Homo sapiens: one gene and its partner. The protein of the gene in region 2 purifies or fractionates together with the protein of the main gene of each other region. This does not show direct contact. Each region holds a gene or a part of one and is shown on either strand. Other genes may lie near its edges.

What was found. The genes of interacting proteins can lie anywhere in the genome.
Region 1: the proteins of ZNF621 (region 2) and LRP4 purify together in Homo sapiens (affinity purification with mass spectrometry; 3 studies listed by BioGRID and IntAct, with this or other methods). This does not show direct contact.

What each region holds. Positions count from the first base shown.
Region 1 is NC_000011.10:46,915,551-46,923,299, forward strand, and holds the start of LRP4 (low-density lipoprotein receptor-related protein 4 precursor), read right to left. Parts: upstream 3,001-7,749; 5' UTR 2,830-3,000; coding exon 2,778-2,829; intron 1-2,777. UniProt on the Homo sapiens protein: Mediates SOST-dependent inhibition of bone formation. Functions as a specific facilitator of SOST-mediated inhibition of Wnt signaling.
Region 2 is NC_000003.12:40,527,943-40,534,965, reverse strand, and holds part of ZNF621 (zinc finger protein 621), read right to left. Parts: intron 5,648-7,023; coding exon 5,521-5,647; intron 5,472-5,520; coding exon of another isoform or gene 5,391-5,471; intron 4,758-5,390; coding exon 4,650-4,757; intron 2,937-4,649; coding exon 1,876-2,936; 3' UTR 1-1,875. UniProt on the Homo sapiens protein: May be involved in transcriptional regulation.

The DNA.
Region 1 (7,749 bases), on a different chromosome or scaffold from region 2:
ATTTATTTATTAAGATAGAGTCTCACTCTGTCGCCCCGGCTAGAGTGCAGGGGAGTGATCTTGGCTCATTGCAACTTCTGCCTCCCAGGTTCAAGCAATTCTCCTGCCTCATCCATTCGAGTAGCTGGGACTACAGGCATGTGCCACTGTGCCTGGCTAATTTTTGTATTTTTAGTAGAGATGGGGTTTTGCCATGTTGGCCAGGCTGGTCTTGAACTCCTGACCTGAAGTGATCCGCTAGTCTCAGCCTCCCAAAATCACCTTAAACTTTAGTGTCTTTAATTCATGCCTTGCTGAGGTCAGGTCTGCCTAATGGATCTACTACTACATTTATCACAACTGCTGTCTCCCTGAGCCCCTGGAATTGAGTGTCAGTCCAAAAGATGTTTTGGTGGTATTTTTGGTTGTGCTGGTTCCAGGCTCTGAAACTGCTCAATCTTACTGGTGAACTGTGAATCTGACCCCCCAGACCTCCAAGGATGGCTCAGTATCAGGCCAGGTGATGTGTATACCTTCACCCCACTGCCTACCCTTACAAACATGTGCACAGAAAGCTTCCCATGCTTAGACGTTTCTATTAAACTTTTTTCCTTAAAAAGAAACCTGGGCCGGACACAGTGGCTCACACCTGTAATACCAGCACTTTGGGAGGCCGAGGCAGGTGGATCACTTGAGCCCAGGAGTTGGAGACTAGCCTTGGCAACATGGTGAAACCCCATCTCTAGAAAAAAAAACAAAAATTTGTAGGGTATGGTGGTGCATGCCTGTAGTCCCAGTTACTCAGGAGGCTGAGATGACAAGATCACTTGAGCTTGGGAGGTCGAGGCTGTAGTGAGCTATGATTGCCCCACTGCATTCCAGCCTGGGCAACAGAGTGAGACACCCTCTCCAAGAAAAAAAAGAGAAAGAAACCTAAAAGCGTTACCGCGAATCCTCCCATTCTTTTTCTGTGAAACATTAGACATACGCAATTCTCTCCCCCCATTCTCACCCCCATCCTCTATGCACATGTAATATTTGCAGCGTTGACAGCTCTGGAGCAGTAAAATCTTCTTGGCCAGTCTCAGCCCGGAACCTTCCAGCTCCCCCTTCCCTAGGGCAGAAGGCGACAATCTCCTCTCTGGCTTTGTTGGTATCCGTTTTAACCCTAATTTTTTTTTTTTTTCCCAGTGCCTTGCCATTTCCCTTGATCTTTTTCAAAACTTCCTCCAGGGGGCTGAGAGGAAAGTTCCATCCCCTTTCCTTGCAACCCGAAGGGGGAAACCCCCCAAAAAGCAAAGCTGTCCCTTTAAGGGGCCCATGTGGTGGGAAGAACAGCTACATTCCTACCCCAGTAGGGCCGCTGTCCCAACACGCCAAAGAGGCTACAAATAACCTTCCAGGAGAGAGCCGGGGAGGGGAGAGCGCAGAGCGGAGCGGAACGTGGGCCGGCCAAGCTACCGCTCTTCGGAGAGAAAGAGCTCAGTCCGCGCTAGAGAGGACGCGGAAAAAAGCCCCTGAAAACCCACAGGTAGTTTAAATAAGAGACATGAAAACTCTGTTTTGGATTTGGGAGGTAAACCAATCTTTAAAACGAGTGCCTAGACATCTCCACGCCCTGCCAGGCAAGTTCGGAAATCTGCACTGACTTTTTCCACACGAGCTGTCCTACGTGAAAGAAAGAACCGGTAAAAGACCAGGCAGGGTCTCCAGACCCCTCCATTCTGAGCCCCAGCTCCCTTCATCGGGGCTGCGAGGCAAATGGGGAGACTCGGAACTCCCGCCACGATGAATAGCGATGGGTGAATAGGGCTGGGGTTCAAAGATCAAAGTTCTTTGATCTCTGGGCACAAACTAGGGAAAGCTGCTCAATCACGGGGTGCACCCAGGGTCGTTAAGAGCCCGCGGAGAAGCAGATTCCATCGGAGCCCTAGTCCCACACAACAGGGGGTACGGGCACCAAGGAGTCCTGCTGCAGCCGTCCAGCTCCCCCGAGGGCTGGGACCCTGCCGCGAGGGCCCGGCGGCTGCCTTCTGGGGTTCAGGGTTACCGGCCCCCTGCCCCCCTACCCCAGCCAGGGCAGATCTGCGGGAGCCTTCCAGCAGTTTCTTCCCTATATTCCTCCTCAGCCCCCTTTCCAACCACCTCCCTTTAGGACGATCCAGGGCTGGAAGCTGACTGGCCGCAGCCAAGAGAGGGACCCCGAAACACCGCCGAGGGGAGATGCTGCCCGCAAACAGTGCCCCAGAGCCCCTTGGTGGGAGCAAGACCTGGAGTCCGGGAATCGTTCTCCGAGTAGAGGAATCCCGGTGCCCAAGTACCAGATTCTACCGGGGCCTCTCTCCGCAACCCGCCCGAGCCCCCAGCCCCAGGAAGGAGGGCTATTTACAATTTATGGGTTTAGCGACCCTCCTCACCCGCCTCCCTTTCTTCGCACGCATTCATTCGCACCAAGGACACAGAGCCCCCGACCTAACCTGAAAGGGAAGCAGCCCCCGCTCTTGAAAGAGCAGCGAGGGAGGGCGAGCGAACGAACGCCCCGGACCTTACCCGCGCCCCGGCCCAGACCCGCGCCCCGGCCCAGACCCGAACCCGCGGAAGCGCCTCCGCTGATGCCCCCGCTCGGACTGCTGGAGCCGGGGCCGCTCCGGGTCCTCTCCCCTGCACGCAGCCCCAGGGCCACGGCTAGGAGCGAGGGCGAGGGGTCTCAGGCCCCGGCCCGCGCCGTCCAGGTCCCGGGAGGCGAGTCCTGCAGCGGCCGGACCCAGGGACAAACTTTCCCGGCGGGCGCCGCTTACCGTGTGCGCAGAGCAGGGCGCCAAGCAGCAGCGCGCCCCACTGCCGCCTCATGGTGCCGCCCGCGCCGCTCGCCCGGGGTCCCGCCGGCTCCCGCCGGACGGCGCGGCGGAGAAGCCCGCGGAGGGTCCCCGAGGGGGAAGCGTCCCGGGTGCACGGCGGCCTGCGCGCCCCGCAAGTCGCCCTCGGGCCGCCGCCGCCTCCAGTGCTGCCAGAGCCGACGCTGCCCCGCCAGGGGACCGGGAGGGGGTGTCCCGGGCCCGACCGCCCCGCCCCCCGCGCCGCAGCCCCGGCCACCGCCACCGCGCCTGGGCCCGCCCCCAGCGCCGGCCCGGCCCCTTCCCGCCCTCGGCCCCGGCTCCCTGGTCCCCCGACCCCACCCGCCGGCGCCTCCTGCGCGGGGCCCCGCTCCTCCTCAGGCCGCCCCCACATTCCTGGCCCGAGAGAGAGCCCCCTCCCTGTCGCTATTACTACTGCTTAAATTTCCCTAACTTAAAAAAAAAAAATTATCCTAGCAGCAAGTCTCGCCCCCGCTCACTCCAGCTCTATGCTTCAGACGAGCACCTGAGCTGACCCAAGTCGCCTGGACGTGACCCTGCCCCCGCCTACCGGCCCCAAGTCCAGACTTTTTTGATGTCTGCGAATACGCAAGGCTTGTGGATGCATAATCCTCTTGGGTCTTTATTGACATCAAACAAGGGACATCAGGGGGCCTGGAGTGCTGTATCTTAACTGGCGTTCTCACTGTCAAAATTCCTTTTCGGAGATTTTCTTCTCCCTGGCCTCCCCCGGTCTAGGCAGCGTTGTTCTAGGGCTAAATAATTCACCGACCCCCCCGCCCCTTTTCATTCACTCATTTCCTGAGATGGTTGTCTGGGTCCTGTTGCTCCAGCTCAGAGGCCCAGATTCGGCCCATACAGACTTAGTTCCTCCTTGCTGTCTTTGTAAATCACTGTTGTTAGCCTCTTCACCTTCTTTGACTTTCTGATCCTGACAAGGAAGGGAGGGGGTCAGGAAAGGAGTCCTCATGGGCAGCTGCACTCCCACAAAGCCCTCAGCCTCCTTCCAGCCCCAGTCTGTAGGTCCTTCCCTCAGATTTAACTTTTGATTTACTGCATAAAATCATAAACTTGTCTCTAGTCTTCCTTCCTTTTGTGGTCTACTCTCCCTAATGCATATTAATAATACGGATTAATTTCACCACCTTCCATTTTTCCAGGTTGAATCTTGTTTTGTTCCTTTTGCCCAAATGCCCAACTTTCTGATGGCCCAGTATATCGCTTTTTTCCCTCCCAGCTGATATGCCAGCATTTCTTGGGCTTGGATCATCTATGGATTTCATTAACTCACTTTCCTCACCAGTAAATAGAGTCAGGAAGACCCAAATGCCCCCTGTTAGCTGAGGGGAAAGTAATTTGGCATAGTGCAAAGTGGTTATTAGATTTCTCTAAATGGATACATTGACATTTCATCCTTGCTTGTTTTTTTCAGTACTTTCACTTCAAATTACCATCTTTTACCAAAGCTAACATGAACCATACTTTGCGACAGCAACAACAACAACATAAAAGATGTAAGGTGTTAACTCCTTGTTAGGCAGTAGTTTTCTATATCGTTTTGCCTGAAATTTTTATCCAGATGCAATGTGGTTGAACTAGCATCACCATGGTAACTATTACTGAAGCATTTTCTGGGTGTGTAGTTCTTCTTGCTGACTGAAGGCGGCAGTAGCGTCAGGTCAGGCTTACATGATCTTGGGGCTAGGCAAGACTGTCAACATTTCTGGCCTCGATCAGTTACCACAGCCTAAAATCCAAGGAGGAAAAAACGTCAAAAGTAGAGGCTGATTCCCCAGCATCCTCCTTCCCACCTCTCATTTCCTAATGCAGGTTTGGTTGGTCTCAGGGTTTCATATATGTTGCTTATGAAGACTTGCTCTTTTTTTTTCTTTTTTGAGACGGAGTTTCACTCTTGTTGCCCAGGCTGGAGTGCAATGGCGCCATCTCAGCTCACTGCAACCTCGGCCTCCCGGGTTCAAGCGATTCTCCTGCCTCAGCCTCCCGAGTAGGGTAGCTGGGATTACAGGCATGCGCCATCACGTCCGGCTAATGTATTTTTCGTAGACGGAGTTTCTCCATGTTGGTCAGGCTGGTCTCGAACTCCTGACCTCAGGTGATCCACCCGCCTCGGCCTCCCAAAGTGCTGGGATTATAGGCGTGAGCCACTCTGCCTGGCCGAAGACTTGCTTTTAAATCTGTTGGGAATGACCTTGGGATTCTGGAGACCATATTTTTTTCCAGCTGAAAACTAGGGACTTGTGGTAGAGCCAGTACAGTTGTCCCAAAGAAATCCAGGATAGGCAGTCCCCATACTTTCAATGTCAGGGGATTAAGAAGTTATAAACAGTTTCCACTCTGTATGCAAAGGACAGGTTCCTTTCCAGAGGCATGATTTGTGTTGTTTTTCTGGAATTGGAGAAGAAACGAGAGGCGGGCTGTCCCTGTCTGACTCAGCTTGAGAGACTGTTTCCTATGTGCATCCCAAGTCCTTCTCCACGGTTCAGCACAGTTCTGGTGCACAGAGTCATCCCTGGCTGCTGTGAGTCACTGGGAATATCAATGGGTAAGAAACTAGCTTCGTGCATAGTCCCTGTCTGGGTCACCCCCTAGGGTGAGTTAAGTCTTGGCTGTCAGAGACTGCTCTTGTGCCAGGAGTACTAAGCCATATTTATTTTTACCAGGCCTCTCAGACTTTCTTGTTTGGAGTGAGAGATCCTGAAAAGCAGGCCAGAATGGGCTGTTTGTCTCCCTTTCACTGTCCTCTGGGACATGCCCCTAGAAAAGTTGTAGGGGACTGCCAATTCCAGAGGGGTCTCAGAGGCGTTGGTTTCCTCAGAAACACCACCCCTTTCCTTCATCTTTCTAGAACAGCCCAGCATTCTTTCTTCCCAAGATCAGAATATTTCCCTGAATTAGACCATCACTAATGGTCTTTTCAAAGGAAACGCAGGGAGTGCTACGGAAACAAGATAGGGGTGGGCACTATTTTGATCCAACTGGGTTGGTAGAATTCTCTTATAACCCGGGAATCATTCAACAACCTGAATTTCTATATGTAATTCTTCTACAAGAGAATAAGGCCTGAAGTTTCACACTTCAACACAGTGGTTCTCAACCACAGGTGAATTGGCAGGCATGGGGCAACATCTAAAGACTTCCTTTCTTCCTTCCTTCCTTCCTTCCTTTCCTCCTCCTTCCCTCCCTTTCTCCCTTTCTCTCTTTCTTTTCTTCTTCCCTTTTATTTTATTTTATTTTGTTTTATGTTATTGAGACGTAGTCTTACTCTGTTGCCCAGGCTGGAGTGCAGTGGTGCAATGTAGGCTTACTGCAACCTCTGCCTCCCGGGTTCAAGCGATTCTTCTGCCTCGGCCTCCTGAGTAGCTGGCATTACAGGCATGCACCACCATGCCCGACAAATTTTTGCATTTTTAGTAGAGATGGGGTTTCACCATGTTGACGAGGCTGGTCTCAAACTCCTGATGTCAGGTGATCTGCCCACCTCGGCCTTCCAAAGTGCTGAGATTACAGGTGTGAGCCACCATGCTTTTTCTTTTAGAGACAGGGTCTCACTGTTACCAAGGCTGGAGTGCAGTGACTATTCACAGGCACAACTACAGCACACTGCTGCTTTGAACTCTTGGCCTCAGGTGATCCTCCTGCCTCAGCCTCCCAAGTAGTTAGAACTACAGGTGTGCACCACTGCACCCGGCAATTTTGGGGAGTTGATGTTACTGGCATCTAATGAATAGAGGCCAAAGATGGTGCTTAACTTTCAAAGATGGTGCTTAACTTTCTACAGTGAGCAGGGCATCCCCCACAACAAAGAATTATCCATCCCAAAATGTTAATAGTGCCAAGGTTGAGAAACTGCTTTAAAAGATTAAAACATGAGACTGCAAAGAATTACTCTATCTTATTTCCAGAATCACTTTCTTGTTGAAGGCAATGTGAATGGAGATAAGTTTTTGTTGTTGTTGTTGTTGTTGTTTTATTTTGTTTTTTGTTTTTTGAGACGGAGTCTCACTCTGGGCCCCAGGTTGGCCTGATCTCAGTTCACTGCAGTCTCTGCCTCTGGGCCCCAGGTTGGCCTGATCTCAGCTCACTGCAACCTCCGCCTCCTGGGTTCAAGGAATTCTTGTGCCTCAGCCTCTCCAGTAGGTGGGATTACAGGCATGTACCACCACACCTGGCTAATTTTTTTTTGTATTTTTAGTAGAGACAGGGTTTCACTATGTTGTCCATGCTGGTCTCCAGTGATCCGCTCACCTTGGCCTCCCAAAGTGCTGGGATGACAGGCGTGAACCACTGCGCCCGGCCAGTTCTTAAAACTTTAGAAGAGAAGGCACAGCTAAGGGGACTAATAGAATCCTATACCTATTTGCTTTAGAGAGGCTTAATTTCAGGATTCGCTTACTCAGTAACTACTTATAAAGGGTATATTATGCGCCAGGCACTCTGAGGCAATGATGAACAAATAAATATATTGGGTCCCTGGAACTTACAGTCTGATGGTTGAAGGGGGCTGCAAGTTTGCAGAAGCATTTAAAAAATGCTCCCACAAATGAATTTGAAGTTACAAATGTTAGAGGCTTTGAGGGAAAAGTACAGGGTTCTATGAAAGGAAAGACTGGACTTAGGTTTGGGGGTTCGAGGAAGGCCTGCCAGAGGCACTGACACCTAAGCTGAGTAAAAGCCATCAGGCTAGGAGTGGATGAGGCCTTCCAGGCAGAAGGAACAGTGTGTGCAAAGGCCTTGAGCCAGGAAAGACCTCATAGAATGTAAGGAAAAGTTTTACTAACTTTCAGCAACAGATTTGCTTTTATCTAGGTTCAGGGGGCTACTACTGAAGACCAGAAACAGTGAAAGCGTGAAAGCCTGAGAGAATAGTGTCATTTGCATTTCTGTGCTTTTTTAA
Region 2 (7,023 bases):
TATGACCATCAGGAAACGTTAAGGGCCTCCATGAAGTTACTGGTCATGAATTTAAAGTGACAGTTCAGCCTGGTAATATGCTTTCTCCTGATCATTTTTGGTGCAGGAACAGAGAAGGCAAAGAACTGCATTTAGTCAGAGATGAGGTTTTGCCAAGCGAGCATGACAAAGCAAGAGAAGGGCAAGGGAGTTAATGGAGACTGTAAGGCATTATTTTAAGAATTAACCATAGAGTTTATGCTGGGTAAAGGAGGAGGGGTGGGCATTTTCTGTTTGAAGCATATCTCTCAAAGTATGGTCCATGCTAAAGATCTGGCCATCACCACAGATAGCCAAAATCAGAATTTGTGCAAGAGAGAAAACTCTTCTTTTTACAAGCACACTATGTAATTCAGACACATGGTAAAGTTTAAAAACCAAGAATGTAAAGGTTTTGCTATTAATTGCTATAGAGAAACATCTAGATAGCAACATCAGCAAAAAAAAAAAAAAAATGTATGGACCCTTCCATCAAAGCTTAGGACTTACTGTTTACATTAATGCCAATAAATGCATAATTCAAGTTCTTTTTCCAGTAACTACTTCACACAGTCCTCTGAATAGTTGTAAAGGATCCTCATCAAGGCCACTTCCAAGAGCAACCCCAAATTCCACTTCACTAACCTACCTAGCCACTGACCCACTACACAGCTCCCTTTATTTCTTAAAAAAAAAAATTTTGGAAGCTTATTCAGATTCCCCTCGAGTTGGCTTTACACCATTATTTTTATTTCTTTAGTAATTAAATTCATATTTATAATTCATAAATATGAAATAAAATATAGAAGCCAGTGCTCACAAAGAAAAAAAAACAGAATGCTCATCAAGAAAAATCTGCACAACAGATTCAACAAAGATGAATGCCTTTGTGTATATTTACTTACGAAATAAAAGTTAAAAGAAACATCTAGCTATCAAGAGCAAAACTAAAGAAAAAAAAACTTCACGTTTAAAGACATGATTACTCTCACTGCCATCAACATACTTTTTTTTTTTACTGTTTATTTCACATTATCTTTTTCACAGATGTATGAGATTCTCAAAGATCTGTGCCAAGGGCAACATAACTTCAACTGTATTAATACCCCACCTAGCCATGGGCCCACTAAACAATCTCCATTAATCTCTACAGTCCATTGTTGGAAGCTTATTCCAATTCTCTACCAGTAGCCACAGGTCTTGTATGTTTCTCCCAGGCTGCTTATCTCTAATCATAATGGCCTAATACAGGGATATCCTCTTTTCCAAACTTTCCTAACACCAAAGTGTTCTACCACCAGCAACCCCACGATGCAGATACAGCCACTGTTGTTCAAGCCTGAAAGGGACCAATGCAAAGGTTAAGTATTTCCATTTTCTACCCAGAAGAGATTATGTAAACACGGTCTTTAAATGTATATAGATTATAATGGAGTTTATGTTGAAACAGCTGTTAACACATGTAAGGTGATGAAAAAAATACAAATGAAACTCAAATTAGGTTGGAGGCTGGGCACAGTGGCTCACTCCTGTAATCCCAGCACTTTGGGGGGCCAAGGCAGGCGGATCACTTGAGGTCAGGTGTTTGAGACCAGCCTGGCCAAGATGGCGAAACCCCATCTCTTCTAAAAATACAGAAATTAGCTGGGCGTGGTGAGGCGTGCCTGTAATCCCAGCTATTCGAGAGTCTGAAGGAGGAGAATCGCTTGAACCCAGGAGGGGGAGGTTGCAGTGAGCCAAGATCACACCACCGCACTCTAGCCTGGGTGACAGAGCAAGACCCTTTCTCAAAAAAATATATAAAATTAGGCTGGAGATTTGCTAGGCATAAGAGCCGTAAGACTGCCAAGATAAAGCTCATGAGGAGTGAGAAGAAGGGGTGAGAATAACTGGGGAAGGTTTCACAGTGGGAGTAAGACCCTGGAAGACACGCACTATTTGGGCAGATGAAGAAGGTATTCCAGATGTAGGCAGCAGCATGAAAAAATTCCCAGAGGTAGGAATGAGCACAGCATGTGGAAAGGTCAGTGAAGGCACAGCTACGGCTGAAGCAGAACAGGATCCCTGGAGAAGAACAGGAGGTATGGCTGGAGAGGAGCACTGGGGACTGACCAGGGATGGCCCAAGGACCTTGACTGGCTTCTTCTCCACAGGGTGCAATTTCTGATGCTGAACAAAACTTCCATACCATTTGAAGGCTTTCCCACACACCTTACATTCATAAGGCTTCTCCCCAGTGTGAACTCTCTGATGCTGAATGGAGGCTATTTTCTGGGTGAAGGCTTTGCCACACTCCTTACATTGATAAGGTTTCTCCCCAGTATGAATTCTCTGATGGACAATAAAAAGTGACCTACAACCGAAAGCTTTCCAACATTCCTTACATTTATAGAGTTTCTCTCCCGTGTGTAATCTCTGATGCTGCAGGTATGCCGCACTCCTACGGAAAGCCTTTCCACACTCTTTACATTCATAGGGTTTCTCTCCAGTGTGGATCCTCTGATGTTGAGTCAAGGCTGTGTTGGAACTCAAACCTTTGCCACACTCCTTACATTCATAGGGCCCTTCTCCAATGTGGTTTTTCTCATGTACAATACAATCATAGCTGGACTTGAAAGCTTTGCCACACTCCTTACACTTAAAGGGCTTTTCCCCAGTATGACTCATCTGATGCCGAATAAGCTTTGAGTTATATCGGAAGATTTTCCCACATTCTTTACATTCATAGAACTTCATTCCACCTCGAAGTATCAGATTTGGATTTAGATTGAAAGTCTGCTTCAGTGCCTTCCTTTTAAAATCAAAGTGCTGAGAAACGTTCCTGAGAAGTCCTCCTACTGGCATTCTGTGCAACTCTGTTTCTTCAGAGGCTTCCTGCTTTATAACTAGCCCTTCATTTTTGATCCAGGACTCACCACCTGACCAAAGAAACCACAAGTGTTCCTAGTTACAAAACTGGAAGAAAAGTAGGATCCAGTGTTCCTAATTTTCTCTTGTAGAATGTAATTTTTAAAGATACCTGTGAAATGGTTATATACAAGCATCTATAAAGGAGGATGAGAGAGACAAAGAAAAATAATGACAGGCCAGGTGTGGTGGCTCATGCCTGTAATGTTGGCACTTTGGGAGGCTGAGGCAGGCGGATGGCTTGAGCTCAGGAGTTCGAGACCAGACTGGGCAACATGGTGAAACCCCATCTCCACAAAAAAATACAAAAATTAGCCGGGCATGGTGGCGCACCCCTGTGGTCCTAGCTACTAGGGAGGCTGAGGTGGGAGGATCACTTAAGCCCGGGAGGCAGAGGTTGCAGTGAGTGGAGATCATGCCACTGCACTTCAGCCTGGGCAGCGGAGCTAGACCCTGTCTTAAAAAAATAGAAAAATAATGACATAGAATTGGAGAAGTAAAGACACAGAAATGGAACAGGAAAGATAGCCAGGAAGTGCTCCCCACGAGGAAGGCTGGAAAATTGAACTAAGGTAGGTGATGGGAAGAAGGAGAATCAAGAATGAGAAGGAAAGAAGGTAGGAGGGACAAAAAAGAAAAAAGAAGGAGAGAATAAGAAAGAACAGTGAGAAATGTGAAAAATGTTTAAAGAGAGACAGAAACCCAGAAGAGGAGAAAGGAATGAGAGACTGGGAAGAATAGAGAAGCAGCTCCAGCACTACAAGAGGTCTTGCAGACTGAGAAACACAAACCAGGAAAAAACTAGATCCCAAAGCCCTACCTGTAACCCAGGCAATCACCCCAAATTCTAAACAATGTCCTAATTATCCTATATTTAAATATCCCACACAATATTCAGGGATACAAGATGATTAGTTTCAGAAAGTCAGCTGGAACAGAAGTTGGATCAGAGAGCTGTAAGCCACTGTGGTACCTGTGCTAAAGGAACCACTATATACAAAAGCATAAATGTGTGAGAAGGCTTGAAAATTTTCTTCTGAAGAAATGGAAACGCAAGTAAACAAAACCTTCCAGGACTGGTAAGCCATCTCAGGGAAATTTTAGGTGGTGTGTGTGTGCACATGTGCGTGTGTGCATGTGTTTGTGTGTATGCATGTGTGTGCGTAGGGGGCTATGATGGGAGAATATTCCTAGCCCTTTCCTCTACAGTCCCATCTATGGTAAATATAATGTAGATCTAAAGATTATGGCAAATGAAACTCTTAAGTGATTTAGATACTAAAAAGGCAAATTAAAGCCATTCTTTTCAGGGCTGAAGGCCTAAAGTAAAATTTATAGCTATAGCACAAATAAATCAGTTTGGCCCCAAAAAATCATATTTTCCTTAAATTTGGCTGAAACCCCACTTCTTTGCAATGAAAAATGGCATACAATTAAAACTTTTCCACCAGTAAGTAAGAAAGAAGTGGTTTAGGAGCTACTGGGTCACAGCTTTTCTGCCTTGGAGGATAGCCACATGAATGTGCAGACAGCATGAGGCCATGTACTCCCAGAGGTGGTCTTTCAAAGCTCAGGGTCAGAACTCAGTGTGAGGTCAGAGAGTACAGTGAGTATCGACTTATAAATAACTGGGAGATTTGTACCCTGCAGCATAAGAAACACTTCTTACCTAGTAAACCAGGAAGGCAAAACAAGAAACTTCACCACTGGATTCTCATACTCACCTTGACTGATGCCTCTCAGAATCTCGGTGTCCCAGGGATCTGGGCCCCATGGTGCTTCCCCTCTCTCCAGGTGGGAGATCAGAGCAGGTTTGGGGAATGGAAACGCTACTTCATGAAGAAAAGAGAAAGACAAATTGAGGGGAGACGTCCAGAGCTATTCCTGGGATCTTTCTCAGCCCACCCTCCATCAGGCTACTTGGGAGAGAAATTGAACACCAGCAGACCAAGTGAGAGTTCTGACAAGGAGGTCCAAACTGTGCTCCACGATAAAGCCAAGGAGGTATGATTCTTCTCAGAAAGAAACTGCATTCTGGCCCTGACTCAGAAGAAGGCAAACTCCCTCAGGAAAAATGTACCTACTGCTCCCCTGGGAGAACCTTCCACAAAGGGAGGGCCAACATCCCCAGAAAACTGGATGGACAAAGGAACAAAGGGCTCACTTAGGGTGCCAGAAAGAATGCTTTCCCTCAGGGCCCAGGACCACACTGTTCCTGGAGTATAAGGAAGTCTAATTTCAAAACCAAAGAGAAGCCAGGCACAGTGGCACACGCCTATAGTCCCAGCTACTTGGGAGGCTGAAATAGGAGAATTGCTTGAGCCCAGGAGTTGGAGGCTGCAGTGAGCCATGGCTATGCCACTGCCCTCCAGCCTAGGTGACAGAGCGAGACTCTGTCTCAAAACAAACAAACAAACAAAACAAACAAACAAACAAAAAACAAAGAGAACCAAGGATTTCCCTACCCAGTATTTCTGGAGGCTGCTGATTGCAAAACTCTCCTCTGAAGTCATCAAACCCAAGGGCTACTAGAATCCCCAAAACATCTGAGGAAGATAGCAAACTGTTACAAAGGGCCACAGAGGGAGGCCTTACCCAGAGAAGCCACATTTGCATAATTCTCCAGCATCACCTCCCCGTACAGGGCCCTCTGCGCAGGGTCGAGGCTGGCCCATTGATTCTGGGTGAAGTAAACAGCCACATCCTCAAAGGTCACTGACTCCTGAAACAACAGGTTCCTGCTCAATCTCTGAGTGAGAAGTAGAAGGAAGAAGGGAGCAGCTTGAGCTTCAGGGAAGGGATAAACCTGCCTGCATCCACAACTCTGAGCCCCATGTAAGGTCTGCTCAACAAGAACACCCACCACCACAGCCAGGGGCGAGCCCTCAGCCAGTAGTTCCACTTTCAAATGGGGAGCCCCAACACTCTCCCATCTACCCAGCTCTGGAGCCCGTAACTGCTGCTGATTCTTACAGCTTGGCACCCAGGCTGAGATTACAGGCATGTGTGAAAAACTAGCAAACAATGTTTTGGAGAAAACAACTGAAAACAAAATGAGGGGGAATTAAACTGTATTTTAAAAGGATAACACATTAAGAAAATGAGAAGACATGCTAAAGTCTAGGAGAAAATATTTGCTGAAGACATATCTGATAAAGCACTATTATCCAAAATGTACAAAGAACTCTTTATGAACAAGCCAATTAAGAAACAGGCAAAAGACCTCAACAGACACCTCAACAAAGCAAATATACAGATAGCAAATAGGCATATGAAACTATGCTCAAGATTATATGTCATTAGGGAATTGCAATAAAAACAGTGAGACACCACTACATACCTATTAGAAAGGCCAAAATCCAAAACACTGACAACACCAAATGCTGGCCAGGATGTGAAACAACAGAACTCTCATTCACTGCTGGTGCTAATGAATGCGAAATGGGACAGCCACTTTGGAAGACAGTTCGTCAATTTCTTACAAACTAAACACACTCTTACCATACAACCCAGCAGTCATGCTCCTTGGTGCTTAACTAAATTTAGGAGTTGAAAACTTATGTCCACATAAAAACCTGTACATGGACATTTACAGGGGCTTTTATTCATCATCGCCAAAACTTGGAAGCAACCGAGATGTCCTTCAGTAGGTGAATGGATAAGCTGTAGTATATATAGACAATGGAATATTATTCAGCACTAAAACAAAACGATCTATCAAGCCATGAAAAGACACAGAGGAAACGAAATGCATTACCACTAAATGAAAGAAGTCAATCTGAAAATGCTACGTACTGTGTGATTCTGGCTATATGACATTTTGGAACTGGCAAAACTATGAAGAGAATACAAAAATCAATTGATGGTTGTCAATTGGGACGGGACTAAGGGGAAAGTAAGGATGGATAAGAGGAGCATAAGGTATTTTTAGGGCAGTGAAACTATTCTGCTTATATAATACTATAATAGTGGATATGTGTCATCCATCAAGAGTGAACCCTAATGTAAACTATCAACTTTGGATGACAATGATGTGTTAGTGTAGGTTCACTCCTTGTCACAAACGTGTTACTCTGGTGTGGAATATTAATATTGAAG